Linked DNA regions of Homo sapiens: all the other regions are reported to be linked to region 4. Evidence: microRNA targets listed by miRTarBase, many of them from high-throughput screens and not tested one by one. Region 4 holds a microRNA gene; each other region holds the end of a gene's coding sequence.

What was found. The annotated mature microRNA hsa-miR-2681-5p reads GUUUUACCACCUCCAGGAGACU and lies in region 4 at 3,121-3,142, shown strand. An mRNA with a match to its seed (bases 2 to 7 or 8) in the 3' UTR can be bound and repressed. Matches are read on the target gene's strand: a 7mer-m8 pairs with bases 2 to 8, a 7mer-A1 pairs with bases 2 to 7 and ends in A, and an 8mer does both.
Region 1: the mRNA of KAT6A is a reported target of hsa-miR-2681-5p. Seed matches in the 3' UTR shown: 8mer at 2,240-2,247.
Region 2: the mRNA of NKX3-2 is a reported target of hsa-miR-2681-5p. Seed matches in the 3' UTR shown: 7mer-A1 at 3,159-3,165.
Region 3: miRTarBase lists DCAF8 as a target of hsa-miR-2681-5p. Seed matches in the 3' UTR shown: 7mer-m8 at 2,910-2,916.
Region 5: miRTarBase lists ZHX1 as a target of hsa-miR-2681-5p. Seed matches in the 3' UTR shown: 7mer-A1 at 345-351, 7mer-A1 at 130-136, 8mer at 110-117 and 7mer-A1 at 6-12.
Region 6: miRTarBase lists CREBL2 as a target of hsa-miR-2681-5p. Seed matches in the 3' UTR shown: 7mer-A1 at 912-918.

What each region holds. Positions count from the first base shown.
Region 1 is chr8:41,927,903-41,932,996 of GRCh38, reverse strand. It overlaps KAT6A (lysine acetyltransferase 6A), which reads left to right. Exons shown (of 17, transcript NM_006766.5): 17 at 1-3,518. The coding sequence ends at 792. Among named protein-coding and RNA genes, the nearest start is that of KAT6A-AS1, 120 kb to the left of the region's middle. RefSeq lists a silencer at 1,632-1,926.
Region 2 is chr4:13,537,742-13,542,835 of GRCh38, forward strand. NKX3-2 (NK3 homeobox 2) reads right to left here. Exons shown (of 2, transcript NM_001189.4): 2 at 3,089-4,787. The coding sequence ends at 4,252. Among named protein-coding and RNA genes, the nearest start is that of NKX3-2, 4.2 kb to the right of the region's middle. RefSeq lists a silencer at 4,563-4,692.
Region 3 is chr1:160,213,812-160,218,905 of GRCh38, forward strand. DCAF8 (DDB1 and CUL4 associated factor 8) reads right to left here. Exons shown (of 14, transcript NM_015726.4): 12 at 5,038-5,094; 13 at 4,513-4,629; 14 at 1,909-3,897. The coding sequence ends at 3,781. It overlaps PEA15 (proliferation and apoptosis adaptor protein 15), which reads left to right. Exons shown (of 4, transcript NM_003768.5): 4 at 1-1,561. Among named protein-coding and RNA genes, the nearest start is that of PEA15-AS1, 7.5 kb to the left of the region's middle.
Region 4 is chr13:101,965,752-101,970,845 of GRCh38, reverse strand. It overlaps MIR2681 (microRNA 2681), which reads left to right and starts at 3,100; the gene lies at 3,100-3,204. It also overlaps a transcript of FGF14 not described here.
Region 5 is chr8:123,249,746-123,254,839 of GRCh38, forward strand. It overlaps ZHX1 (zinc fingers and homeoboxes 1), which reads right to left. Exons shown (of 4, transcript NM_007222.5): 3 at 3,577-5,094; 4 at 1-575. The coding sequence ends at 3,580. All of the region lies in intron 2 of ZHX1-C8orf76 (ZHX1-C8orf76 readthrough), which reads right to left. Among named protein-coding and RNA genes, the nearest start is that of C8orf76, 11 kb to the left of the region's middle. RefSeq lists an enhancer at 1,300-1,509.
Region 6 is chr12:12,640,824-12,645,917 of GRCh38, reverse strand. It overlaps CREBL2 (cAMP responsive element binding protein like 2), which reads right to left. Exons shown (of 4, transcript NM_001310.4): 4 at 810-3,924. The coding sequence ends at 3,920. Among named protein-coding and RNA genes, the nearest start is that of CREBL2, 31 kb to the right of the region's middle. RefSeq lists a silencer at 323-382 and an enhancer at 1,407-2,606.

The sequences.
Region 1 (5,094 bases), not on the chromosome of region 4:
GGCAGCTACTCTCAACCATCAGCCACCTTCAGCCTAGCCAAGCTGCAGCAGCTGACCAACACCATTATGGACCCTCATGCCATGCCTTATAGCCATTCTCCTGCTGTGACTTCCTATGCAACCAGTGTTTCTCTGTCCAATACAGGACTGGCTCAGCTGGCTCCATCTCATCCCTTAGCTGGGACTCCTCAAGCACAAGCCACCATGACGCCACCCCCAAACTTGGCATCCACTACCATGAACCTCACATCTCCTCTGCTTCAGTGCAACATGTCTGCCACCAACATTGGCATTCCTCACACGCAGAGATTGCAAGGGCAAATGCCAGTGAAGGGGCACATTTCCATCCGCTCCAAGTCTGCGCCACTGCCCTCTGCGGCTGCTCACCAGCAGCAGCTGTATGGCCGTAGCCCATCGGCAGTTGCCATGCAGGCTGGCCCTCGCGCACTGGCTGTTCAGCGTGGCATGAACATGGGGGTTAATCTGATGCCTACTCCCGCCTATAATGTCAATTCCATGAATATGAACACCTTGAATGCCATGAACAGCTATCGAATGACACAGCCCATGATGAACAGCAGTTACCATAGTAACCCTGCCTACATGAACCAGACAGCACAGTATCCTATGCAGATGCAGATGGGAATGATGGGGAGCCAGGCCTATACCCAGCAGCCTATGCAGCCTAACCCTCATGGGAACATGATGTACACAGGCCCCTCCCATCACAGCTACATGAACGCTGCTGGCGTGCCCAAGCAGTCACTCAACGGACCTTACATGAGAAGATGAGCAAGATGAACTTGCAATCAAAAACTTAAATATATATAAATAAAGGAACCTTTTATACTGACAAACCAGAGAAAAATGGACCTTTTTCCAGTTAAAATATTGCTGTAGATTTAGAGGAATTTTTCTTTGGTTTATTTTATTTTTTAGAAAACCTGATCTTCTCTTTTTTTGGGTTCATTTTGTTCTGGGTTTTGGTTTTCTTCACAATCTTGAACATTTTACAGTAGAACTCATCTAAAAATGGATTTGGGGATGGGGAAACATGCACAAAATCTTTTCATAATTAAAAAGAGCCTTACTTTCTTTACATACCACATGGACAGAATTTGTGTAAAAGTGAATTATCTTTATTTTAAAATGTATGTTTCCCCTCACTGTTTGCAGCTCCCAATGTTGTCATTTTTAAATGTTATATACATCTCAAGGGTTAACCAGACCCTTTCCTCCAAACCCAACCTTTCATTTCCTACTTCATTCCAGCAGGAGGCACTTAGGGGAGACTCGGATGGGGACATGGAGAACAACCCAAGCTCCTTAAACTTATTATTATTGTTAATATTATTATTATTATTATTAATAAAGTGAGGCAGGAAAATGCTTCTCCTTTTAAAATCCCCTCCACTCCTCACACACACACACCTCTTGAAACCCTTCCCCAAGAATGTTTCTTTATAGACGGACTTCATTGAAATCTTTGTTGTTCTTGAATCAAGTGTAATATAATTTTTTTCTTCTTTTTTAAAATATTCCCACTCAGCACTCAGAGACACAAAAATACTGTAAGTCTCAATTAACAGCAGAATCTCAGAGAAAAGCTGTTTGCAATCCAAATCCAGCCTTTGGAGGAATAGAGATGGTCAATTAACAATCAAAAAGAGGAGATTAACCTCTTGTTTTTTTACCACCTGGTGAATCAGCCATAACGCACACACACGCCACCCAGCCTCTTGTTTCTAGTATGTACTTTGAAATGCTAACTGAGGGTCTTGATGCTTGAGCCTTTGACTGATAAAACTCAAATAGCAGTCCCCAGTGATTTGCCTCTTAGGTTCTTTCTTAAATTGTTGGTGGATGACTGTACATTTTAGTGATTTGAAAAATAACTGACAAACCATTGAAACAGTTTATTTTATGTTGGAAGAGATGGCGCAGATGTGTGTCAGAAGGGAGATCACGGTGTGAGTTTCGTAGCTATTTAAGTGATACATACCTCTAGTTTTTGTATGTCTTTTGAGATCCTGAGTTCATCCCCTGTGAATCAGAGTGCACAAGCACCTCTCCTGTGAGTGGCTAATGAGAAGAGGGACAGACCGACCACCAGCACAGTAGGGCAGATCTGGACAGCAGAATGTTATAACGCAAGTTCATGTGTTGCTCCCAACTCCATTCTCTTTTCTCTCGTGCAACCAGTTTGCCCATTCTCTTCCTATTACTTGCTCCAGGGATAGGTAAAAAAAAAAAAAAAAAAAAAAAAAATATATATATATATATATACACACACACACACACACACACACACACATATATATATATATATATTCCATCATTAGAAGATGGAAACTATTATACCACTTGGTATGTGCAGTCAAATATCCAAAAGGGGGAAGTACTGCTTAGAGAAATATCTGTAAGCATTAAATTCTCTCCTTTATTTGTACATTTTATATAGATAAATTTTTAAAGTACTAATTAGGCATTAACTTTTTTCAAATGCACAGGTTTGTTGGTTTTTTTAATACACTTTAATTGACTTTCTCAAGCGTGCTAGGTAGAAACGCAGAATTCCACATCTTCCCGCTCTCAGCTCTGAGCATGTGCAAGGCTGTGTAGGACCCAGTTTCTCTGTATATACTATTCCAGTTCCCAGTCATCTATGTAGAAAGTGCACTGTGCTGCCATCGCCCTACATCTTCAGCTGTGTCATTGCTTCCTGGTTGGGGTGGGGACGGGGTGGGTCGGGAGGGAGGTATATTGGGAGGAGGGTGGGTCAAGGCAGAAGGAGAAGCTGTTGAAATGAGGGCCGTGAAATCAGTTTCTGTTGGTTTGCGGTTGTGTTTGGTTTTGTTTGTTTCTTTATAAAAAATTCAATCGGGCAGCTCCCTTTTCCACAAGCCTCTTTGTGACTGTAGAACTATTGTAGAAAAAAAAAGTTCTTTTCTATATTATAAAAGAAATTATCCAACACAGTAATATTGGTACCTGTCATTTTTTCACTTCTGTTTAAAAAAAATGTATTTTTAGCAAGATAACTTGGGTAATCTTCTAAAAAAGAAATTTAAAAACTCACTGTTAGTGACTTTGATGCCTTTTAAAATAAGAGCTTTTTCATTTCATTCCATCTTTAAAATTTTTTATCTTTGTTGTAGAATATTAAAAACTATTTTAAGAAAGATAAATTCTCTTTAAAGAGATCTCTAGCGTGTGTGAATAGAGCTCCAGATGCCTCTAAAAGCCGCATGTACAAAGGAAGCCACGTCTATCCTGTCTGTTTATATTTGCTTTTCCTGTTTTGTAACCTCTTTGTACTTTGTTCATGGTGACTTGTAAGCTAAGGGGAAGGGGTGCCTAGATGCCTTTGTATCTCTCCATGTCACGCGCTCCTGGGCCAGCCGGCCTCCCTTCCTCTCCTTGTATGTAATACCTTTTTTTCCCCTTTCTAGCAAGTACTTTCAAAAGAACTCTGTACATTTTAACATAAAAAATAAATTATGTTGAGCCATTTTGGATGTCTGTCTTGCATGTGGAATTTTTCTCCCTTCCCAGTATGTCAGAACTCTTCAATTCTTGTTCTACACCCAGAGACCTATAAACATTAGTCTTTTCATTTTCCTCTTTATTATAGGAGTACAAGTCCATGGCCTTTGCTTTGAAATTCCAGTTTTCATTTATGTCTGTGTTTAAATGCCAACAATATGGATGGGTTTTCCATTTCCAAGGAACATGGCACGGTAACCCTACTTTGGATTTTGTAGGGGCATTCATATAAAAACCTCCTAAAGGGATTTTAATTCCCGTCCCCCCCACTCCCCTAAAAAAAAGCAATTGCAATAACAAGTAGCTCCTAGACTTGTGATAAATGGGAGGAGTAATTTTTATAGATCTTATTTTATAATGTAACAGTATTTTTAAAAGCGTTGTGGGTTTTTTTTCATTTCATTTTACCTAATTGGGTAATCTAGGAAGATTCGTCATTCTCCTTTTGCCAGAATTCAAGGCCCTGAATGCTGATTACTTTTTGGTGGTCTCTTGGGTTGTGTTTGCCTCTCATCATTTAGAATTGTGGACAGGAGGCAGAGTCCAGAAAATTTGATTTCACTTTGGGAAATTGGCCTTAGTTTCTGGTGGTAGGCAGTGAGGCAGGTTCAAGTTTTAGCGGCCTCCACACTTCCTCTGCCCCTTCACACTGAGGAATTGAGGAACTGTACATGATACTACCTATAGCAGACATTTGTTCTGAATTTCATGCTGTTTAAAGTTTAGACAGTATAGTCATGTCATCTCAAAAGGAATGATGTATGTCCGTTGATTTCTTGGCTGGCTTATATAACCATTATTTGGACACAGGCTGTGTCACTGTGCTATGCAATTACTAGTGGATTGTCTTGAAAACATTCTTGCCTTTGCCACTGAAGAGTATTTGCTTTAAGTGATTTCAACATAAACCAATTATGTTTTTTCAATATAAGAGATAATGTGGCCAAAGACTATTCTAGACTTTCAAAAAACATACATAAATATATTTATATTGCATTTAAGTATTATTTGAATTATATAATCCCATGTATAGCCAAGGAACAAATGAGTTGTTCGGAGTAGGGGAGGTGCTCCTATTTCTTTGTTGTCTCTCCACCTCCTGCTGACAGTAGATTGGGGAGGATGACACACTCAATGTGTGTGATACTGAGAACCCTAGTCCACCAACCTGTCGTCGAACTTTCAGAAACTAGAGCACCAGGAATCACATTCTTTTAAAGCCTTTCTGGGCACTTTAGGTGGTGCCTGGCTTCCTTTGTAGCATGGTGACACCTGTATGAACTCCCTAAACACCAGTCTTGGCAGCCTCACAGTTCCAGCTCTTTAGGTGAAAATTATTATTTCAGATTATCCAAATCACAGCTCAGGCAGTGTGGTGATTTTCGTCATATTCCTTCCTCTAGTCTTTTCATAATGTACAAGATGTGGGTCAATGGTGATGGTAATTGAAAGGAATAGTGAAAGAAACAAAAAATGCTATCTTTGGCAGAACAGAGTATGCAGGATCCTTATGATGAGTGGTGGGGGAAAGGAGCTCTACTTATTGAT
Region 2 (5,094 bases), not on the chromosome of region 4:
AAACTTCGTGAACTTTGCGTTGAGAAAGCCATATTCCACATTTTCTTCCCAAACACGGACTGAAATGTGGGTAGAGGAGAGTGGATTGTTGGCCTGGCTGGTGCTGAGCTCCAGCGGCCGGTTAGGGAGTTAGAGCCCTAGAACCCCCGCTTGGCAGGACTTCTGAAGACCCGGGATGAGGTTCTGCCTTTATAGGATGCTCAGTGTGCCATTGCCGGGGTCTGCTCCAGAGCGCTTCCCTGAGAGGAAACCAGGAGCCGGCATTCAGCACACTCCCCACTCCTCAAAAGCCCCCAGATGTCACCCTTCCACGGGCCCAGTTTCTCAGGGTTCTGGGCACTGACATGCCTGAGCCCCAACTCAGAGGGCAGGCACTTGTGTTTGAGCCCGATTACAATCTTCTCGAATGATGCTTCACTGTCACCCTGTCACCTTTACCAGCGTGGGGGAGCAGTGAGGGTGCTGGGATTCGGTGCAGCCTGGAAACCATTTATTTTCTAAACCGGAACCCAGTCTCAACTCAGCCTGCTCATCTAAGATACTCTCTGGCGATCCAAGAGGCCCTCATACCCAATCTCTTGAAATGAGATGTGGTTTGGGACTAGCCAGGTCTGTCTCTCTCTCTTTTCTTTTTCTTTCTTTCTTTCTTTCTTTCTTTCTTTCTTTCTTTCTTTCTTTCTTTCTTTCTTTTTCTTTCTTTCTCTTTCTCTCTTTCTCTCTCACACACACGCATGCGCACACACATACACACACGCAGACCCACCAGCTACATTTGGCAGCTGGTTGATCCCAAATTTGCTGCTAGGAGTAAGATTTGTGGGCTCGGCCTGAATCCTTGGGACCAATTTCAGTGCAAGTGACATGATGTTCCGCCCCCTTTACCAGCCATTCCCCTCGCCTTGGTTTACCCATCTGTAGAGTGGGTGGATCTAATTCGAAAATCCCCAAGGCCAAGTTCTAAGATTCGCTAAGCGCCAAAGGGACTGAGAACGATGAAGAGGCCCAAGGTTCATTGGGCCCAGGCGGCAGTTGCTACTGCTCCGGGGACCAAGCCCAGAGAAGGCCGAGAGGGCTCAGCGCAGCACAGGGATGCAGGCAGTGGGTGAACAGAGATACCCTCGAGTAGGGAGCAGGACTGTTCTTCATCTTTCCAAAAAAAAGAAAAAAGAAAGAAAAAAGAGAGAAAGGCGGAGAGAAGATAGAGGAGAAAGTAAAGAAAAGGAAGAAAGTAATACTGCAAATTTTCAACGGGAGCCGCGTCTGCGGCAGAAGACCCAGGTAAAGACATTGGTCTGGGTCGCAAAATACGGCGAGAACTCCTTGGAGGACAGGCTGGACCCAGAGGTCGCCTCCAGCTCCCAGAATCAGACCTCAGGGCATTCTCGCCAAGGCAAACCGCGGGACAGCTTGGAGGGAAACAGCCATAATCTGGATCAAACTGAATTCATTTGAGTCATTTTCCCCGGGCAGCCGGAGCCAGTCCGCGGAGCTGGCCCAGGCAGGGGGCCCGAGAGTGGGAGAGAAAGGGAAGGGGCGCCCGGGTCCGCAGGGTAGGTGGAGTCTGCGGTGGAAGATGGAGCCGCCAGGGGTGCGACCGGGACCTCTGTGGCTTTTCCTACTCTAAAGAAACTCCCGGATTCTTTCACCGCCCAATCGGCAAAGATGGAGAACAAACTACCCTCTTAAGACGCAGCAACAAGCAACTGCCTTTTCAGAAAGGGAGAAAATCCCTCCTCCTAAAAAACCCCTCAGTAAGTAGTGATCCCTGGGGAGAAGAAGGGAGGAGATTCTAGTATTATCGGAAATGTTCCAACTCTCTACAAGAAAAACACAGTCATGATTAATTGTATAATTTAAATAGAACTGTAAAGCATTTTATAAAGAAACGAGATGATTGCATTTATAAAGAAACGAGATGATTGCAAGAACCATATGGAAGGTAGTTGGACTCCAGTGGGGGACCGGGTGGGAGTGTGCATATCCCGAGGGCCTTTGCTTCTCCCTTTACATTTTGCTGTTTCTGGAAGCGGGGATAATTTTGTAAAACGCTGGTCACCACGCTCCGCCCGGGCCAGATCCGAGGGCTTGAGGGACCCCAGGCCAAGGCCTTTAGGGTACCAAAGCTTGGAGGCCCGGGGGCTGGGAAAAGTCGCGGTTGCCTTGGAGAGCTAATCGACCTTTCGGCCCCAGGTGAAATTGAAAGAAGCCTTGGCCAGGGTTTTGGTGTTTCCCGACTCGGGTCCAGCGGACTGGAGGCCTCAACGCCCGCAATGTGGCATTAACTCTTCCTTGCTCGCCGGGAACTCGGCTTGAGCTGCCAGTGAAAGTGAGCATTTAGCTCCAGTGAATCCGTAGCATTCTGGGGAGTCTGGGAGCGCCAGCTGCGTATGATCATCTGTAAAATGGGGTAATAAATAACGGTGCCCTGCCCATTCTCTGCTCCCCGGGTGGGCTTCGGTGTGTACCAAATGACGCCCTTTCATTGAGTGCGGGGAAGCGCTTTGAAACCTTGTAGAGCCCCAATTGCACCCGTCCGAGGAAAACGCTCGGGTGACCCTTCTCCGAGAGACAGGTTATTCACGCCTGGTTTGCAACTAATCGCTTCAGAATTTTAGCGGGAGTTTTCACTAAACCACTCTCAAAACTAAACACTAGATAAGGTAGAGAAACGCTCCTAAAATCGAAAGCAGAGAACAGGGTGGGGTGGGGTGAGGGGAGATGAAAGGGTCGGTACATTGGGATGGGGGATGGACATTGGCTGGGGGTTCAACCATGGACTCTTACTAGGCTCTGAAACCAATGCTCACAGGGAGGATGGGGAGAAATCCTAGGAATTTGTTCCCGGTTTCAGTGGGATTCATCCATTACTCCTGCAAAGCCCCCGAAGTCATGATTTTTCTGAGCTGCCCAGGTTTATAACCTGCCTGAGGAGTGGGCGGGCAGCAGGGCTGCTCCCAGGAGAGACTAAGCATCCTTGGTCCGAGACTAAAAGGAGGTTGGAAAAAGCCCCAGCTATTTCCAGCTCGCCTTACTGGTTCCCCAAAAGTCGGGAAAAGACAGTTTCAGAGAAAACGCGGCGTCCAGGAGGGCATGTTAAACTAAAAGTTTATAAATTAAAGAAAAAATACAGCGAATAGAGCTTCCAAACTTCACAAATCTTTTTACAGTTAATACTCTAGTTGAGTGCACAGTGCCATTAAGGAGGCGAAAAGCGGCGAGGTTGACAAGACAGGTGGGATCACCTGTTTAAGGGTAAGTGAGGGGCGGATAGGGGAGTCCCGGGCCAGAGCACTGGAGTCGCAGAGGGCAGAAGGTAGACACTGAGGGCCAGGCAGCGGCACTGCGGTGGGCGCCGTGGAAAGGCTGGCCAGGGATATTCACATTGAGTAGAAAAATAATCGTCATTTGAATACAAACAACTGAAAAGTGCGACACGTCTTAACCTCCTTTACACAAATAAAAAGAAACCAAGGAAAGTTTCCGCAGAGGGCTGCCTGGGTGTGCGCTCTCCTCCTTCCGGGACTCCCAGGCGCTTCCTGCTTGTGCAGGTACCTGGACTTCAGAGAAGGAAGATGTGGAGACCCCCGGCTTGCACCACACTTGGAGGCTCCCCTCCTTACATTCAGCACCCGAATCGGGCACCCCCACCCTAGCTCTGACACACAGGAGGGGTGGAGCAGAGGGCCTGAAAACCCAATCCTTCACGTTTCAAATCAACCCCTGGCCTGGTGCTGCCTGGGACTGCCAGGGTTTCGCACCCCTTGGTTACAAATGCAATTTCCAAAAATAAAAGATATGTAGATACACATAGATTGGTAGCATGGATACCATGAACTAGTGTGGCCTAGTGCAGAAAGCTCCCAGCAGGCCTGAAATTCTGAGGATTCAGGCTATGTGGTCTCCAGGAGTTGCCGCTCAGGGAAAACCCCACCCCCAGGCAGACATATTCGAATCAAAATTTAATTCCAACATTGTCATGATAATAAATAGAGCCCAGGGGCTTCCAGGCAGGTGGGCGATCAGGGCCCCTAGGCCATAGGGTGCCTCTGTTCAAATTAGAAAAAGGCGCCCCCTCAGGGCAGACTCAGCCCAGCTGCCAGGGGACAAGTCCTGGCTAACGGGAGCTGGAGCTGGGTTTCACCTCCAGGTGCCTCCTTGGCGGGGCGCCCCGTGCAGGCTACAGCCTACAGCTGTCAGCGCCGGTCCGGAGCCGGAGCGCGGGAATCACTCGCTGCCTCAGCCCAAGCGGGTTCACTGGGTGCCTGCGGCAGCTGCGCAGGTGGAGAGCGCCCAGCCTGGGAGGCAGTAGTACGGGTAATAGTAGGAGGGCTGCAGTGGCAGAAGCGAGGGTGGCCGCAGCACTTCGCCGGGCAGGTATTGTCTCTGGTCGTCGCGCACCAGCACCTTTACGGCCACCTTCTTGGCGGCGGGCGCCGAGGCCAGCAGGTCGGCTGCCATCTGCCGGCGCTTTGTCTTGTAGCGACGGTTCTGGAACCAGATTTTCACCTGCGTCTCGGTGAGCTTCAGCGACGCGGCCAGGTCTGCGCGCTCGGGCCCGGACAGGTAGCGCTGGTGGTTAAAGCGGCGCTCCAGCTCGAAGACCTGCGCGTGGGAGAAAGCGGCCCGCGAGCGCTTCTTGCGTGGCTTGGGCGCCGCCGGCTCCTCCTCCTCCTCCGCGACGCCTGCCGGCCCGCTGCCGCCCCCGCCGCCGGCCCCGCTGCACAGCGCGGACACGTGTGCACCTCTGGGGCCAACACCGTCGTCCTCGGTCCTTGGGCTGCGGTCGCCTGCGGACCCCGGTGGGAACAGAAACAAGAGACTGTCAGCGCCACAGACGAGGTGAGGCCGGGCCTCAACTGCAGGGGTCACGGGAGTGGGGCGGAAATACACTTTGATCCCACTCAAGCGGAGCGGAGGTCTGGGAGGCCCTGGGCCCGGGAGACCAGTCTTAGACTCTTGCCCCACTGGGTATCCCATCTAGGCCTCTTCTGGGGAGGGCGGCAGACTCAGCCGCTGTGTCAACGCTGTGTTGTCGAGACCAGCTCCCCACCCTCTCTGGGCCCCAGGCTCCCCTCAGTAACTTGGGGCACTCGA
Region 3 (5,094 bases), not on the chromosome of region 4:
CATATCTTTAAAGTGTGGAAGCAGAAAGGACCTGCATTTTCCTACATTGAGGAGCTGACATAGGGGTAAGGTATGGGAGAGGTAGGTGGATCCAGGGAAAAGCAGTGGGGACGGAAGGCAAAGAGACCACTCAACCCCCACCTGGAAGGGGCAAAGAAAAGCCAGAGTTCCATGTTTGTACTCCTGTGCTGGACTGTTTCCTGAGTACCAGCAGGTCCCTTTTTGTCTCTCATGGGCCTAGCATAGGTATGAGCCAGGGATCCTTTCCTGGTCCCTAAGATCAAACCCCATGGAGCAGCCAGCGTTAGATGCCCCCACCCACCTGTACTCTGGAGAGACTGTGCTGGGAACATGTACCACTGAGCCTGAGATGGGGATGAGGGCAGAGAGAGGGGAGCCCCCTCTTCCACTCAGTTGTTCCTACTCAGACTGTTGCACTCTAAACCTAGGGAGGTTGAAGAATGAGACCCTTAGGTTTTAACACGAATCCTGACACCACCATCTATAGGGTCCCAACTTGGTTATTGTAGGCAACCTTCCCTCTCTCCTTGGTGAAGAACATCCCAAGCCAGAAAGAAGTTAACTACAGTGTTTTCCTTTGCACCGATCCCCACCCCAATTCAATCCCGGAAGGGACTTACTTAGGAAACCCTTCTTTACTAGATATCCTGGCCCCCTGGGCTTGTGAACACCTCCTAGCCACATCACTACAGTACAGTGAGTGACCCCAGCCTCCTGCCTACCCCAAGATGCCCCTCCCCACCCTGACCGTGCTAACTGTGTGTACATATATATTCTACATATATGTATATTAAAACTGCACTGCCATGTCTGCCCTTTTTTGTGGTGTCTAGCATTAACTTATTGTCTAGGCCAGAGCGGGGGTGGGAGGGGAATGCCACAGTGAAGGGAGTGGCAGAATCAAATTGCTACATAGTCCAAACAAAAAAGAAGGCTTTTTCAAAAAACATTAAATTCACATGCAGTCTCAGAGACTATTTAGACAAAGTTCAAGTTAGGAGCTTTTAGGATGTGGGAGTAAAACTTTAATGGGAGGGGAGGGCTGGCTGCTGGAAGAAGGAAGAAGCCAGACTGGTTAGACAGTACTCTTAACTCCTAGCCCAGCCTAGCGTGCCCTGCCCCTCTGGCCACTGCTGCAGACACCTGCCTTAACACACACACCTCTAGGACTCCACAGTTTTGCCTTAAAGGACCTTCCCAAGTCTCCCTTTCCCTGTCTGGCTTCTCCCTTAAGAAGAGAGAGATACTTGTAGAATTGGGTGGGGGGAATGAGCATGAACTGTCCTTCCATTTGGGATATGTTACATTAGAGTGAGAGAGAGAATAAGGAGCCTTTCTTATGGAAGAAATGGGAGAAGAGAGACAGGGTTCTTTTCAGCAGAGTCTAGTAGTTTCTCTGTAAGGCAAAATAATCTAAAAAGACTAACCTGCCCACCCACTCCTTATATTGCTGTGAGATTGCCCCTATCTTGTGCTCTTCTGTCTGCAGTGTGCACGGCCTTGTTCTAACCCGGAATAAAGGTGATTGATTGTATTGCAACTAACTGATTTTAAAATTTCTGTGAGTGACCAGGATTTTGCAGGCTTTGAATCACTGGGAAGGGAGGGGGAACAATATTTATGGCCCAGAATAAGGGCTGGGAAAATACCCCAAGTGTATACCCTCACCCCACCCAATCTCCTAAGTATCACTGAGCTAAATGGAGTGTATCCTACTTCCAACAGTCTCCAATTGGAGCCCAAGCACTGGAAATACGGGTCTCCCAAAATGGACTTTCTAACACTGTATCATGTGCAGAATGAGAGGGGAAGGCTAGGTACCTACATTAGTAGGAACAAAAACCATCCATTGTGAATAAATGGACCACATACCACACAGAGCAGCAGTCGGGAGAAGAAAAGCTTTACTGGGAGAAAATACAACAAATTCCAGAGTGCATGGTTTTTAGCCCACCCTATCACCCCACCAGCAATAGGAACACAGACCACTCGATCACCACACATTCCCTACCTCAGGGAGTAAGTACAGCAGCCAACATCTGGTCTCAGAGCTGCTGGGAAAAGGGGCAGGAGGAAGAAGTATCTGGGAATACCATTCTCTCACTCTTTTCCCCTCCTTCCTGGCCTGATTTAGAAGAATCTGACTGTCCCAGGATACAGAATTCTTGGTTGGATCTTGTGGAACTGGGGGCAAAAAAATAGCAGCAAAAGCACTTAAGGGCAAGAATTCAGCTGGGACTTTCAGACTCAGTGACCAGTGATAAGACAAGTGCCCAAGCTCCAGCCACTGTAATCAGTCCTTAGATTAATGACTTATTCCTCAATCCTAAAATATCAAGAGGTGGACAAGGTTTAAGTCAAACCCAGGAAGTCTTTCCCTTCACTCTTCTATAAAGAAGGGAACTGGCATGAAGTTGGATGGCTTAATGATCAAGCAGCTAAAGGTAAGAGAGACAGAGTGAGAGAGTGTGTATGTATGTGTGTGGTGTGTGTGTACATGTCTTCTGTCACAAAGTACCACAATAGTCTGCAGTGGTGGCACCACCCTAAAGTAGTTAAGTTTTAAAGACAGGCCAGCCTCTGGTTAGAAGAGCCATCCTTGGAACCCCCTACAAGACTTAAGGAGAGGTAGGAGATCTGAGGCAGAGCTGAGAGGAATTTCCTGTTTTTCCCAACCCCTACACCAAAGCAGGGAACCAGGAAGGGCAGAAATGAGGATCCTTCCATTCTCAAGCCTCCTAAAACCTAAAGGGTAAGTCCCAATCTCTAGTGACCATACACAGAGGTAAACTGACCCCAGGTGTCACTTCCACACCATTACTCTTGTTCACTCTTAAGTCCCTTTATTGCATTCAGAGAATATATAGGTATTTAAACTTTGACAATAATTTTACCTTGATACATCCAAGTTTGACTTGCTTTTTAATATATTTATAGATATAAAATTAGGCCTCTAACAGTGATAGGGACAGGGAGATTGCTGCCACCAAACAATGTTTCTTAAAAAAATAACAGAAGAGGTAATATCCTTCCTATTCTTCCTTCACTTCTGCCCCTCCTCCCACCTCTTCCCAGCCTCCCTCACCTGACCTATTTAGGGGGTGATGGGATGAAGAGAAGAGAGTGAAGGATATGTAATCAAGTGCAAAATACTGTGGTAAGTACAGAGAATGAATAAGGTGGAAAGGAAAGTGAAGAGTGTGGGATGGTTAGGGGCTTTAAGGACTTCCCAGGAAAATAGGATTCTGGGATGGGGTTGCTGGGGGTGGGGGGGGAGCCAACTGTCATAAACTTTTAAAAAACAAAGGAAGAAAAGGTCAAAAACCTAAACCAAAGAGAGAGTGGCACTCCTACCCTCCACTCTGGCCCCTTGGTACTGAATAGCCAGTTGTTCCCCCCACCCCTCCCCCAGCCCAAGAAACAAGGGAGATTAAAGAAAAAGAAACCCCATTCCCTATCCCAAACCAGTTAACAAAATAGGCTTCCCTCTCCTCTCAAAAAGAGGCTTTGGGGAGAGGCCATTTCTGCCGAGTCCTATGCACCTCTCCATAGAGCCCCATTCCAGGGCTCAACTCCCATTCCTAGGTACTCTTTGTTGGTTCACTCCTCTGGTTTGTCCTTCTCCTGGGATGTCTTTCTTTTATCTAAAGCAAAAAGTCCAAAGTGCGTTTCTGCTGAATGTAGGGCCTGGGACAGGAAAGGGTTGCCCAGGCAGGATCAGGTTGGCAGCCCCAGCCTGCCCCACCTAGGTATGAGGCCTCAAGATGGCATGCACTGCACCCGGTCAGGGCCCTCCTCCTCGTCCGATGTGTCTGAGGAGCTGGGAGACTCATCAGAGTCCGCGTCTGTGGCCCCAACCCCAGGTTCTCGCCAGCGCTGTGGATGGGAAAGGCTTGTTAGTAACTTCCCTGGATGGAACAAGGACAAGCCTGTTAGGTCTTAGCCAGAATTTAGATGCTTTAGGCCAGAGATCAGCAGAATTTTTCTTAAAGGGCCAGAGAGTAAATACTTTAGACTTGTGGTCTATATGGTCTTTATTGCAACTATTCAACTCATTGTAGCGTGAAGGCCGCCACAGACAATACACAGAATGGGTATGGCTGCAAGCCAATGAAACTTTATTTACAAAAACCAGCAGCAGGCCAACTGCCAGTTTGCCAACCCCTGAACTAGGCCTCTTTTGGCATAAGAGGAAAAATAGAAGGGTCACACTGAGACTTGTTATTTCTTCTCAATTCCCTCCTCCACCCTCCAGCTTTTGCCTTTATGAAGATAGCATTACACATGGACGGCAATGGACAAAAGTAGATACCACCCTTTTCTGCTGATGTCTCTTCCAAGGCTATATCAGGGATCTGATGGGGACAGAGGACAGTGGATAGGAAATCCGACCAAGATCACCTGATTACTGCTTGAAGTCACTACTCTGGAACTTTTTAGCCCTCTTAAAAGGGTCACTCCCTTGGGAATTCATTTCCAACCCTAGCTTACCCGGTGATGGCGTCTCTGTCTCAGGTGATGCATAAGGAACCACAGCATGTGACTATCAAACAGGTCAGTTTGGTGCAAGCTATCTTCATCCCGCTCCCGCTTGTTCTTCTTAATCACCTGGAACCCAAAAAGGTTGGGAAGAGGGGGCAGCAATGAAGAGGAACCCGGGACCTGATCAAGAAGGCTGATCTCCTATCCCAATAAAAGCTTCCCTTAAGTTGAAGTGGAGCTACATTAGATTAGGAAATGATGCCCTAGGTTCAGCTGCTGAAAAGGTAGCAGGCTTTAATACAGAATAATTCTTAAAGATGCTCCTTATCCCCATCCTATTACAAATTAGTGCCACTTCACAGCTGCCCCCTGGAGCAGGACTATTCCTACAGAGGAAATTACAGGAATGTGGGGGAGGGTGTTAGAGCAGTGCCTTTAAAGAACTGGGCAGCAAGTTATTCCTCCCTATGACAATAAGAATCAACAGTATGTGGATAAGCAGAAAGAAAATAACTTCTGCAGTCAGCCACTTACATCTTTTAACCCTGTCAGCTCAGTGGAAGCTTCAGCTGTGGGTGCCCAGATCTTCAC
Region 4 (5,094 bases):
CACTATGAACAAAAGTGGTCTTATTATGCAGACAAAGTCTCTCAGGCAGCAGAATAGACAAAACAGAAGAATAGATGAAAAGTCTGTCTGCATGTAGTGTTTTGGGTGGGGAGGTCTTTAATATGCTCTCCTGCACCTTCTCTGGTTAATTTAGATTCCAAGGAAGGCGTTTAGAGCAAATGCATTTTTTCTTCTGGTGGAACTTTCCTTACAGTCAGACATGGAGACTCCAAAGAAATCCCCTTCCTGTGCTTTAGGAGAGGCAGAGGGGCAAAAGACACAGGACAGAAGAAAGTCAAAGCAACCTTGATTCTAAGGCTTCTTTAGTTGGAAGTACTCAGCATGTCAAAGAGGCATGCCTTGGGGTATTGTTTTCTGAGCGGAAGCAGATCCCAGGATCTGAATATTTGATTAATCTGCAATCCTGAAAAGTCACTCAGGGGATCCTCTAGACAGAACAAATTACAAGAGAATCTCAAAAATGTTTTTGGTTGAAGGAACCATATGAAAATAATAAAATGTATTGCATATAAGGGCAATTAATTTTAAACCCATACTGGGAATAAATTGAATTGAATAAATGTTTCCTGTTGTACTGAAGATAAAAATAGGCTTTGAGTTCAAAGATCTGCATACAAGGTCTAGATCTCCTGTGTATTGTCTCTGTAAAGAACCGAAAAATATTCAGCCTCTCTGAGCCTCAGTCCCCTCATCTTCAAAATATGACATTTAAGTGGGGTCTCCCAGACTTGATAACCAATGGAGTGAATTAGCAAAAGCTGCCACACTATTATTCATCTTGAATAAAATAAAAGACAATCAAGAGAGATTAAGAGATTGCTATAAGGCAGATGACAATAAGGCCAGAAGAGAAAGCATCTGAAATGTTCTGACCCATAAATTACGAATGTTTGCTACCGGCAGGAATACTTAAAAGAAATGAACACTCAGTTTTTGCCCTTTAAAGGCACTCATTGTCAAGATATGGGGTGTTTTGTAGACTAGAACAATAGAGCAACCTCCACCCAACCTCTCCTTTCACCCCAGTCATCACAACTCAGGGCCTCATCAAATAAAAATTCCTTTTTTCTAATTGGATGCCACTTTTCTACTCTAGGCAGCAACTTGTTCATACAAAATGTAACATAAGCCAAAATTTAAAATTGGTAGAAATATGCAAATTTTGAGTTCAATTTACGGTGAAAAATAGTCTTACAAGCAGTCATGTGGATGTAGTGTGTGCAATGATAATAAGAAATGAGGGAGACCACAAGGCTATTGATTAGGGTTTCACAAATGACTCATTAGAGCCCTATTCCTTCACCAGATTGAAATATAATGTTTAGAAGGCATCAGGAAACTTCAAAGGCAGGAGTATTTTGGCTTTACCAATGACTAACAGCCAGAAACACTAGACTATACCATTTCTTTTTTTTTGTTATTTTTAGTAGAGACGGGGATTCACCGTGTTAGCCAGGATGGTCTCGATCTCCTGACCTTGTGATCCGCCCACCTCGGCCTCCCAAAGTGCTGGGATTACAGGCGTGAGCCACTGCACCCAGCCTAGACTATACCGTTTCTTATCCTTCAATCCCCAGTAACCAGACCAGATGAAGTTGTTTATTTGGTAACTTACCCACCCATGATAAGTGACAACTATGAGCTAAGTGCTGGCACAGGTAGTTATGAAGACCTAGGCAGTCCACCCCTTCACAAAGGTGGATCTAAGCATGACTCCAAGGCATGGAGCCCACTGGCCAGATTTTCCTTACCTCCCCTTCCACTGACCATCCTTGTTTCTTTCAACTAGTGAGTTCTGTGCTAGCTTCAGGCTCTAGGCATGCCCTTCTCTTCTGTCCATACCAAGGAATTGTGGATGGAAAGTGACCTGGTGATAAAAACCCATCTTCCTTAAAGTACCCTCCCTGCTTCCAAACCCCCAGCTTTTTTCAACTCAAACAATGCCCAGATTTAAAAAAAAAAAAAAAAAAGGCTGTTGATGGAATGCATGATTACAGAACAAATGAAAAGTGAGTTAAAAGAGTTGTGGGGGAACACTTAGTCTGGCAGCTGTATGATCTCACACTTTTGTGGCTGTGACTTTTGTAATTGTGGTATTCTTAAGTATAAAATACAGGAAATATTGATATTGAGGTTTTTTTTTTTTTTTTTGGAGACGGAGTCTCGCTCTGTCGCCCAGGCTGGATTGCAGTGGCACGATCTCAGCTCACTGCAAGCTCCGTCTCCCAGGTTCACGCCATTCTCCTGCCTCAGCCTCCCGAGTAGCTGGGACTGCAGGCGCCTGCCACCACGCCTGGCTAATTTTTTGTATTTTTAGTGGAGACGGGGTTTCACCATGTTAGTCAGGATGGTCTCGATCTCCTGACCTCATGATCCGCCTGCCTCGGTCTCCCAAAGTGCTGGGATTACAGGCATGAGCCACCACGCCCAGCCTAAGCTGTATTTTTTTTAATGTGTTCAGTAGCTGTTAAAATAAGATTTTGTACATCCAACAGGTAAAATATTTTGTTACTGTTCAGTATCTTGCAAAAAATATTTTTTAGACTTTTTGTCAGGCTTATTATGACATGCTTAATAAATTAGGCATAGCCATTACATAACAATTTCACCTTTATGCATTTATATGAATTTATCTTCATTTCTTAGACAAGATTTATCTACTTATAACTGCACTTTCACTCATTTGAGTAACAGAGGTTGGTTGTAGAATGTAATCAATTATAGATTCCCTTCCAAGTCATCAGTCATGCTAATAAAATGAAGACAATCATTTTAAGAATTATTTTCAAGTGTTAGCAGAGAGCTACAAATTTACAGCATGACCATTGACCCAGTGACTCATCTCCATTACAGTTATGGGTGAACTTGCAATTTGGAAATAGAAAATGTTACCTCTGTTACCAGCATGTCCAAGCCATCACCCCATTTTATCCTGGGAGTGTTCATGTATCAGATTTTCTTCCTTCTGATTAGGCAGCAGGAATTTATTGGGTGTTTAATGTGTCTAAGCCATGCAATAGGTTTTGTAGAGGATTCAATAGAGGTTAAAAAGACATCAAGAGCAAAGATATGCTCTCTGCCCCCTTTTCACGCATTTGTGTTTTACCACCTCCAGGAGACTGCCCAAAGACTCTTCAGTATCATGGAGTTGGTAAAGCACAGATGCATGAATAATTCAACGTGTAAGCTATCTAAAGAAGCACCTTGATTAGAGGAATCAATGAGAGGAGAACATTTAAAAACAGATGTGCTTACTTATGCCTTCCAGTGTTTGCATTGTTTTTCTTGTATTTTGCTTGTGTTATTCATTAGAAGGAATTAGAGGTTCCTCCCACACAGCATAAATGTTCTCACTGCATGACCTTGAAATAATCAAGCTTTGTTTATACTGCAGAAACTGATATTGGTACACATTTAGCTCAAAACAATTTTAACTTTACCACAATCAGAAGGAAAACATTATGAAAACAGTCAAGTAAACATAGGACAGTGGTTCTCTTAATGTATACAAGGATTATCTATCTGAGATTAGTTTACAAATGACTTTAGACATTCTGACTCAATAGAACACTCCACCCTCAGACATTCTTACTCAACAGAAGAAGTCACTTTGATTCGGTAGGTTTGGGATGAGCCTTGAAAAATCTGAATTTTAAGGTTCATTCTAAGTGACTGAGATGCAGGAAGCCCAAAAGCATCCTCTGGGATGTTGTGCTACAGAACCTAATGAATGTCACAGAGATGCTAGCTTTGTGCTGTTTTTCAAAGAGCTGAACAAAATAGCATTATGTCAGTCCTGGATGTTCTTATTAAAAAACTTGGTTTAGGTAACTGCTGATATCAGTTTAAACTGACAAACCAAATTCTTACACTCGTAGAGTAATATTCTTAGGCATTCCTTTAAGTTTCTTTCATTATATGAGCCGGAGTCCAGCTACAGTTCGCCAAACAATAACGAACTGTCTCACGATCCTTCTGTCTTCTGTATTTCTAGGTCGTCCCTAAGAAAGCATCAACAACTGAGTGGTTTAAACACAATGATTTGGCCAGGCGCGGTGGCTGACGCCTGTAATCCCAGCACTTAGGGAGGCCGAGGTGGGTGGATCATGAGGTCAGGGGTTCGAGACCAGCCTGACCAACATGGTGAAACCCCATCTCTACTAAAAATACAAAAATTAGCTGGGCGTGGTGGTGGGCACCTGTAATCCCAGCTACTCAGGAGGCTGAGGAAGGAGAATTGCTTGAACCTGGGAGGCGGAGGTTGCAGTGAGGCGAGATGGCACCACTGCATTCCAGCCTGGGCGACAGAGCGAGACTCTGTCTCAAAAAAACAAAAACAAAAACAAAAAAAACCACAAGATTTATTCTCTAACAGTTCTGGAATCTGAGTCCAAAATCAAGGTTTCTGCAGAACCATGCTCCCTCCAGAGTCTGTATTTGCCTCTTCCTAGTTTCTGCAAGTGGCCATTGGTCTTTGGCAATCCTTGATATTCTTTGTCTCGTAAATCATCACCCCAATTTCTGCCTTCATCTTCTCATGGTGTTCTTTTTGCATAAGTGTGTTTTCTCTGTGTCTAAATTTCCCATTTTTATAAGAACACCAGTTATATGGCAATAGAGCCCACCCTGATGACCTCATTTCAACCCACTTACCTTTGTGAAGAACCTGTTTTCAAATAAGCTTACAGTCTGAGAAAATGGAGTTTAAAACTTCAACTTATCATTTTTTAGGGAGTGGGCACAATTCAATCCAGAACATTTCCCTTCCCCTTAATTCTGTTGTTGGATATATTTAAGCACTCAGAAAAATTTAGGTACAGGAATAGAAAAGTTGATTGTGGTTCTGGTGACGGTGATGTGTGGATACATCTGGCTGACTTCTTATAAAAGTATAAAATTACCAATTATTTTTTCTTTATGGAGTGACACTTTTCAGTTGTGCCCATGAAAAATGTTTGGACTGGACTGTGTTAAATGAAGGAAACTTGCTGTAACCTCATCCTGGGGTTAAGTCAGTTCCTTAAAATTGATTGCCTTATATTTTCAGTATTCTTTTTTCTCTACTTAAAGTAA
Region 5 (5,094 bases), not on the chromosome of region 4:
GGCTGTTTTTACATTTGAAATTGTATAAGCCCATGCACAACTTTTAATCTTAGTGCAGGGTCTGATAAATAAGACATAGTAATAAATCAGGGTTTTTTTTTTTTTTTTTTTTTTACCCATTTCTAACAATTTTTACTGTAAAATTTTTGGTCAAAGTTCTAAGCTTAATCACATCTCAAAGAATAGAGGCAATATATAGCCCATCTTACTAGACATACAGTATTAAACTGGACTGAATATGAGGACAAGCTCTAGTGGTCATTAAACCCCCTCAGAAAGTCTAAGATTCAGAATGTCTCCATCATATTAGAAGAAAAATGTACTGTATTAAAATTTAAATTGCATTTTTACAAGTTGTTTTTTAATTAGTGTTCTATTTACATTGCAGAACTTCCACCAACTGCAGTAGTTTAACTTTGGCACAACATTAAGTTCCATTTCTTTTGGGTATTGGATCCTGCTTTTTGAGTGTGTATGCCCCAAAACGTTTTCAATGTCATCAAAGATTGGGCAAATTCACAGTAAATCAGACATCTTGAGTTGAAGAATTGATTCTCCTTCAACGTTTTAGGCAGCTAAAAAAGAAAAACATCATAAAAAACTGAAAATTTAAAGAAAACCATATTTTAATTTTTACTACTTTTAGAAATAAAAGTGAAAATACATCTTTTGTATTCTCTTGAGATTACCTGCCACATATGTCTTCCATAATACACTAGGCTTTGTGTGCAACTCATCTATGTATATGTTCTTCATATGCTAGATTTGCTTATAAACATTTATCATCTTTATGTAATAATTTATTTCAAACTGTATGAGCAGGGAGTATATATTTCATTGTCAGTATCTGTAATAAGCAGACTATGAAATCTAAAGACTTGTACTTTTTTCTATTTCTATACAAGGTGCAAAAGATATATATGTACCTCACTTCCTGTAATAACTATTTTGGGAAGGTTTTGGTAACTTTTTTGGTAAATTGAACAATATTTAAATGAAGAAATAACTATTTAGAGAAGGCTATGGTGAATCCTCTTATAAGTGAAAAATTATTTTACTCAGCCAAGGATAACTTGATGTTTCAGAAATTTAGACTTTTGTGTATTTAAAAAGGCATGCTTCTATGCTATCACAAAAGTATATAATATGGTTTGGCTCTGTGTCCCCATCCAAATCTTACCTTGAATTGTAATTATTAAGGGACAGTGATACCACAAAATCTTATTGTTTCAACATATGTAAATAGGCTGTTTTTACATTTGAAATTGTATAAGCCCATACATAACTTTTAATCAGGGAGTGTCGGGGGAGGGAGCCTGGTGGGAGGTGACTGAATCATGGGGGTGGACTTCCCCTCTGGCTGTTCTCATGATAGTGAGTGAGTTCTCAGGAGATCTGGTTGTTTGAAAGTTGTGTGGAACATCCCCTTTCGCTCTCTCTCCTGTTCGGTCATGGTGAGATGTGCTTGCTTCCCCTTCTTCCCCTTCGCCTTCTGCCATGACTGTAAGTTTCTTGGGGCCTCCCAGTCATGCTTCTTGTTAAGCCGGCAAAACTGTGAGTCAACTAAACCTCTTTTCTTCATAAATTACCCAGTCTCAGGTCGTTCTTTATAGCAGTGTGAAAATGGACTAATACAGTGCATGTATAGCATACATCATACAGTCTTTTGAAAACTGTAGTTTTAGGATGAATTTTCTGACCAGAATTAGTATCCATTACAGTGTTAATATATAACATAAGAATTATCTATACAAAATTAAAGGTCAAACTAAACTGTACAGAAAAATTCACATTATTTTTGGAAGACTGCAACTCCCCAAAAAAATCATTGCAGAGGTTACAACAACAACATTCACTGCAGCAACAAATTTGTTGATTTAATCTTGGCTGAGTGCACATTCTTGTGTTTAGCAATAAAAAAAATGCCTGTTAAAAATATTTTATGTATCTGGGTCAGAAGAAAGCCTGCTCTGAAGATTTCTGACATTAGGAAATGGAGGGCTGCACTTCAGGATAAAGCTGTATGAAACTGTTTAACTTCTTATAACCTAAAATGATTACATTATACCCTATAACCTGGAATGATATTTATACTGCTTATTAAAACAGGTACATTTTTAGTTTCATCTGTTATCCCTTAAAAAATATTAACAAGGAGAAAACCTGAAAAAGGATTGCCAAGCAGTAAGAATAGTGCCTGGTACATATTAAGCTCTCTATAAATAATTGTTAAAATAAATAAAACCAGAGAGAAGATGTAAGGGAATTAAGGAAAAACTGCACAGAATAACAGAGCATAAAAGTAGGGGATGGGATACTCATGCAAAAAGCCAAGGAAATAAGTAAGCATGCTCACGTATAAAATAATAATGAGGGTCTACGTCTCATTTCCTTCCTTACTGTTTGAACACAGCAGTCATTTCTGATAGCAAGATGCTATTTGGACTACTGACAGACATACACAAACATTTCATGACAACTGCATTGTTTTCAAAACAGTGTACTTTTACCCCGGAACACTCCAAAACAAAGAATAGCAAAGAATAAAACTATGTTATTAAATTCCAGAAGTATTAAGAATTCAATTCCTAACTCCAAAGCAGGTATCTGATTTGCAACTACAGTTCAACTTTAATTAATCCAATTTATAAAAGAACTAAGATTTAAGGAACATGCCAAAACCTTTCAAATTTAAGCCATATTTATTTGCATTTTTAAGACTACAGAGATATACTTTAAATCAAATACAATGTTAGTGCTGGTAGCAGGTTTGTTTTATACCAAAGAATGAAAAGATATTTTAAGCAATTGGGTTTATATCAAATCTGTTATTTGCCTTTTGATCTCTAAAACAGAAATAATTTATATCACAGTTTTCAAAGACAGATGCCGCCTAAGCAAACATGAATTTATATATGGCCTAAAACAGACCTTTGACTTTTAACAGAAAAAGATATTGAGTAATTTTATAAATTACTAAAAAGATACTGAGTAATTTCATAAATACATAAAGCATTTTAAACTCTAGTTAAAAGTCTAGTAAAGTTTTGGGAGCAATGCAATGAAGATGAAAAGATACCCATTTTCACCTAGTTTCCTAAAACTGCACAATCCTCAACCCTGTGGTAAGTCTTTCCTTTGGTGTACTTTTCCCCTTCTTTTTAGTTTTCATTTTTGAATTATTTCCTTAAATAGGCAAAAAATGAAGCTTTAGTGAAGGGGGCATTGCAATAAAATACATTTTAGTTATCTTTAGTATTTGTTTGTGAATCCCCTCAACCTGCCTGCCAGTCTCCCTTCATAGAGATTGGGTAACTTTCCTTCAAAACAAAGTAAAAAAAACCCAATTCATATGAAAAATAATAATTAAGACATTAAACTCTACATAATAATAATAAAACTACACATGATAATCATTTATCTCTTAGCTATACTAGTGGTACCTAGTCTTATTAGGGAAAAGAAAAACTACTTCAGAAAATATCAAAAATGAAGATGACTGATACAACAAGGTGACTGTTCAAAATGTATGTGGTTGATGAACATATACGCAGATTAAAAATTTTCTTAACTTACATTTCAGTCATCTGATTTAGACAGCTTCCGTTTCACATGTCGTGGAGGTTCCCAAGTGTCACTATCATCTGTTTCTTCTTCATCCTCTTCCTGGTCATCAATAACTTCATCTTCCTCCTCATTTTCCTCAAATAATTCTATACCTAATTCTGATCTTCTCTGTCTTTCTGCAAACCACTCTCTGACCTGCTCATAGCCCATATGTGATTTGTTAACAAGTTCATCAAGGTCTTGCTCATTAAGAAACTTGTGCTTCAGGTAATAATCCTTAAGTATTGCAGTTCCAGTTTTAAATTTTATGAGTGATGGTCCCCTGTCCCAGTTGTTAATTCTTTTGCTTCCTCTAGGCCGCCCACGCGGTCTTCCTCTTCCCCGTCCTTTGGGTCTCCCTCTCCCTCTTTTCCTAAGGGAAGACAGACCATTCATACTACTTGAATTGGCGCTCTGATAGTAGTAGTACCATTTCAAGTTTCCATTCTTCCAAGCATAACGGGTGTCCCCAAACCAACTAACTATGTCTGTTCTAGCAAGCCCGCTTTCTTTGGCCAACTTGTCATACTCTTCTGGTGATGGCCACTGTGTCCGGACAAATGCACTCTTAAGCATGTGCAGCTGCTCAGGTGTTTTTTTACATATCTTGCCTGTACTCCCTGACTTAGGTGCACCAGATTCATCTGCAGGAGAAGTTTCTCCAGCTTCTTCTTTGGAACTACCTGCATTACTTTCATCTATTTCCATTTTCTCTTCCTTTAAAGCTTTTGATTTCTTCTTCTCTGTAAACCAAGCATCGATTTCTCTTCTGGTAAGTTTGGTTTGTGCCCTTAACCTATTTAATTCTTCATCTGTAAGTACAGAGCTGTTGAGAAAACTTGCCTGAAGGACACGAAGCTGCTCTGCAGTTTTCTCTTTAAACTTTTGGGGAGTAAAGTCAGGAAAAGGATTCCAGGATTGCTTAGGCTGTGCAGTACCAACAGTTGGGGATTCCGTGGTTTCATCACTGGAGTCTATAATAATGGTGGTAGAGGAATCATTGTTGAGATGTAAGCACTGATTACTCTTTGAATTTCTCTGGTTGTACCTTGTGTCACTAAACCATTTTTTAATCTCTCCTTTCGTCAGGCCTGTTATTTTCATAAGTCTGATAATTTCTGAATCATGGGGAAACTGATTTTTAAGGTAGCTAACTTTTAATTCTGCCAGTTGCTCTTTTGTCTTTTTTGCCCGAATGCCAAATGAATCAGGGTTTACCAATGCAGTTTCATGTTTGACACTTTGAGAAGTTGGAACTGCTGCTGTTGCTGGCTTTGTTTCTGCAGTAGGCTGAGCAGCAGGTACCTGACTTTTCTGTATATTATTTTGACTTGGAACGCCTGCCACTGTCAAGGCTATAGGTGCTGTAACTGGCAAGGTGTTTGTTCCAGCCACTTGAGTAAGGACCAGACCAGGCTGACCAACTATTTGGCATGTCTGTAAAATAGATGGTAAACCATTACTCCCTGTGGAAATGTGTGTAGGAAT
Region 6 (5,094 bases), not on the chromosome of region 4:
ATGCAATGCTAGCCTACATCGGGCCTTTTTCAGTGGTGTGTTAGAAACTGACTGAGGGGGTGGGGGATCCACAATTTGCAGCATTTACTAACTTCTATGATACAAATACTCCTACCATTGTCCATTAAAAGCTACCAACCTGATGTCACTGAACATCAAGTTGGGAAGAGATGCACACAATTGGTTCTCCTCTGGGGAGCCAGCAAAAGCCAGCTGCAACACACCACGGCTTTGCACATTTTTAAAAAGGCACCCCCTGGTGGATGTATTAAGACAGGTATCCCCTTTGGGCAAATTAGAAAAAGACACCTCTTCTGGGGAGACCTGTGCCACATGTACACCTTGGTGAGAAGGCAAGAGCCCCTTCCTCCACACGTAGCTTGTTGAGGGGAATGTGAACTAGATTTTAAAGTCCATTCGCCTCCTTAACTATGTACTTTTGTGCAGTGCAAAATCAGCACAACTTTACAAGGCAGTCCTGCCACTGATTCATGACCATCGTGTAGTTAAATAAAACGGATGGAATAGAAGACAGCCAAGTTACCTAGCAGCCTGAAAGACTACTTTATGTGGATAATTATAGGATGATATTGCCAGTTGAAGTATTAGTTGTTCTTAAAATTAGTCTAATTAATAGAAGGCTATTATTGATAAAAAGGGCCCCCGACTATACCATTCCGAAGATAGACATGATATAGCTAAAAAGACTTGGGAAATGTGATACCTACAGTACCACATATTTAGAGTCCAACTCATTAAATATATTGATCTTTAGTGACTTAAATGCTAACAATAGTCAAACACAGGCATAATGTGAATATTTAAATTTAATGTAGTTCTTCCCTATTTAACAGTTTTCTGTAACTCCTATTTAGCCTACCAATTACCCTGTGAAAGTTATCCTCCCCCCTTTTTTACAGATGAGAAAGCAGGCTGAGAGATCAAATAACTCAAGGTGACTCAGAAAATAATTCAAGGTGACTCCTCCTTTTAAAACTAAATATGTAATGGATAATATGCAACTGATTTCTTGTGAAATATAACATTTATGTTTTTAGATTTTCTTTGCCTTTAACTCAAGCTAAGTCCAGTTTAAACCTGTACTTTTTGTAATTAGCCAAATCAAATGATCATAATTCAAAGATGCTAAAACAGAATGCTACATAGTGATGCTGAGAAATACTGTCAATTAGCCAGCAAACAGTAATCTGAATTTGCGCAGGATGATCATTCTAATTTAGATATAATGGAAAGATTTTAGATAAAATAGAAAACTTTTTAAAGAAATTCAACTATATCCTAAAACTTGACCTGGTCAAACTTATTCCATATTATATTCAGTTGCTCTAATATACAGCAGGTTGATACTAAAATAATGACAGAATTTGGCTGGTCTAAACATACAAATATATTTTCCCCCTTTTCTTTCTTTGGGAAAATAAGAAAAAAAACATTACTCTGTTTACTCAGAAAGCAAGGAGAGCAGCACCTTCTCCTGGACTCCGTGACTGTCAGCCATCTTGTCATCACAAAAAGGTGAGGGGTGCCAGGATTTCACTATGCTGCTCCTTCACTGGAAAGGGAAGGAAATGCTCCAGCTGTTTTAATCAGTGACATTTATTAACATGCTTCAAAAGTGACCAAAGTGTCCAGCCAGCACAATAGCCGAGGCAATCAACGTTCTCTTAGTGTGTGATCTCCTCCAAAACACCAAATAAATAGGTTTAGGAATAACCTCAAATAAATTGTAATTTAACTTCGCCCAAAATTATACATCCTCTACTGCTCTTCCCTGCTCCTGTAAAGATACTAGCGGGAGGGGAGAAAGCTCAAATGACTCTGTAATTTAGAATTACAACCAGAGAAGAAATACTTCAAGCACAATAAAGACGTTCCATTGAAGAGCGACATTCATTCTGGAATGTTTGTTTTGAAAACAACTCTTCTGGGGGAATTCAAAAGGTACTGAACAAAGCAACATAAAGTAAGTTTTGGGTTGTTTTGCAAAATAAAAATATACAATTGAGTGGACCAGATGGCAAAAACATACCAATTACAATCTGAATGCTATATTTAAAACCCTTAAATTCTGAAGGCCTGAATATCAACAAACCTATTTATGTTTATGATCCTAAAAAGACATTAAATATTATTAAACCCCCAACTTCCAAAACATAGAGACCCAGCAAACTGGGCTAGTGGTATCTCAGTACACAGTCACACATGACTAGACTAGACTAGACTAGACTAGACTAGAGATCTGAGTTTGCAACCAAGTACAAGAGGTCTTTAGGAGCTCAGGCTAAGGGAGGCACTTTATTCAAATGCATGGCCTGAGAGAAGAGGGAAAGTACCTTGTAATCTTAAACTATGTGGTCCATCATATATTCTACCTCAAAGACAATCTAGACTACGGTATCTCCTCTTAAACTGCCAGTTCAGAACAAAATATACTTTATTTGGAAGCTAAATATTTGCTTCACTCAAGTGAAGAATAATTTAGCAGCGACAGAGAACACAACTCCTGTTTTAACCATGGGAAAGAGAAGAGAGAGTGGTAAGTATCTCGCTGGGGAAATCAAAAGATTTCTGGGTCTGTCTGGGTGTATCATATTATGAGCTTGATTCTTCAACCGTCACTCCATTTGGTAGTCAGGGAGAAAGTAAGTGTAGCTGCAAGGGGAAATGGAAAGAACTACCCTGCCCTTCTGCACCCCCAGCCAGGCCCACTAGCTGCGGTGCTGTGCACAACTCCAGTTCCAATGCTTCCCTCCACAGTGGAGGCATATCCAGGGCTGAACCAGATGCACGCCCACAGTGTGTTTCTGGCTCAGAGCCTGTCAGGAAATTCATGTCTGGGAAGAAACTAAGTGTTCTGGTGATGGCTACAGTCAGTAGATCTACCAGCAATTTGTCCCTTTTTTTGTTTCAGATTTTAAGGCAGAAACTCAATCTCAGCAGCTAATTTCATCCAATTTTCTTCAGAAACATTCTCCAATTTAGTTGAGTACGCAAGAAAAGTGTGTGAACATTCACTCCTGTCCTCCCCACATACATATATAGACATACAATAAGAAACATACATACATATATACCCTAGATTGTCAATGTATGCTGCTGAAATGCCTGAAAGGTTACTTTTCACTTAAAAATAAAATTTGATGAATTATTCTGCAAGTATGGATTTGGCCCTAGCAAATTTTTATAAATATAGTTTGAGAGGACAGCAACAAAGGTTTTAACTAGAAGCTGTCTTGAGGGTTTTCCTGATAGATATTGTTAATATGTATGTTATTTAAAACAGGCATATCCTTATGGATTATAAAAATAGAAATGTATATATTTGTTAATACATATTCACAGCTTATGCTGGAATGGCTCACAGGAGAAATCATGGTTCATGCAGAGAATAAACATTACTCAAGTAAATAAAAATAAGATTAGGTCCATAAAGGCTGAGAACTTATAGTCAGTAATCAGCTCATTTGGTTTCTCTTTGTAGGGCAATCAAAAACATGAAAGGTGGTGACACATAAAACACACACAGACATACAATTACATGAATTACATGGAAAGAATATAAATTAACCAATAAAGCAATGTGGAGTTAAGGTGCAAAAATACAATCTTCATCGATTTTCTCTACTCCTGTGTTTTCAAGCATCACAACATGTTAAATGTCATGGGTGGCAATACCAACCCAGACAGGTCTGAATGTTTGTAGATTTTCTAAGTGTTGAAAGTTAAAGCAAGATCCTTTGAGATCTACGATCACACATTTTGGTAGAAATTGCAGATTTACAGAGATGACTACTGAGCAGTAGGTAGTAAATGGAGCCAAGAAGTACACTCTTGCCCATCCATCTTCCATGGGAATCAGAATATTGGCTTCAATCACTGACTCATCTTTATATAATCTTCACCCTGAAAAATAAAAGTTACCAATGTAAGAATGTTTTTAGAGTCAATAAAGTTTGATTAATCTGTTTTAAGATGCATAAATTTTTTTTTTCAGTTTAGTATCTTCAGTAAGGCTAATTTTTAAAAATACAGACTAAAAAAAAGCTGATTTGGCTTTTTTCCATTAATTTAATTTAGATGAAGCCAAATGTTTTAATTTTTAAACATTTCAGTAGCTTTTGGGGTAGAAGTGGTTTTTGGTTACGTGGGTGAATTGTATAGTGGTGGAGTCTGATATTTTAGTGCACTTGTCAACCTAGATGAAGACAAATGTTATCTAATAAAAGTTATCAAAAAGCCGATTTCTTCAATTTTGTAAAAAATACTGAAAACATAAGAAGTTTGTTCTAGATGGGCGTGGTAGCTCACACCTGTAATCCTAGCACTTTGGGAGGCCAAGGCGGGTGAATTACCTGAAGTCAGGAGTTCAAGACCAGCCTGGCCAACATGGTGAAACCCTGTCTCTACTAAAAATACAAAAAATTAGCCGGGTGCAGTGCCATACACTTGTAACCCCAGCTACTTGGGAGGCTGAGGCAGGAGAATCGCTTGAACCTGGGAGGCAGAGGTTGCAGTGAGCCAAGATCGTGCCACTGCACTCCAGCCTGGGTGACAGAGCGAGACTTCTTCTCAAAAAAAAAAATATTGAAACATTGTTCTGTGCTCCCAGAGGTTGACCTAAAAAAAAAAAAAATAAAAAAAAATAATAATAATAATAATAATAATAATAAAGGTTTGTGACATTTCTTTATAGCTATTTAAAGTGCTCCCAGAGCAATCACAATAATGAAGAAATCAACATAGGACATATTCATTTTAAAGTCTTTCCAGTTTCTTCAACAAATGTTGCTTGGACAACTAGATACTCACATGCAACATATGGACTCCCACTTTATACCATATAGAAAAATTAATTCAAAATGGATCAATCACCCAAATAAAAGAGTTAAAACCATAAAATTCTTAGAAAACATGAGGCAGGTAAATCTTCATAACTGTGCATTTGGCAATGGAGTCTTAGATATGACACCAAAAGCATGAGTAACAAAAAAACAAAAATAGATAAATTGGACTTCACCAAAATTAAAATATTTTGTGTATCAAAGAACACTATCAACAAAGTGAAAAGAAGCC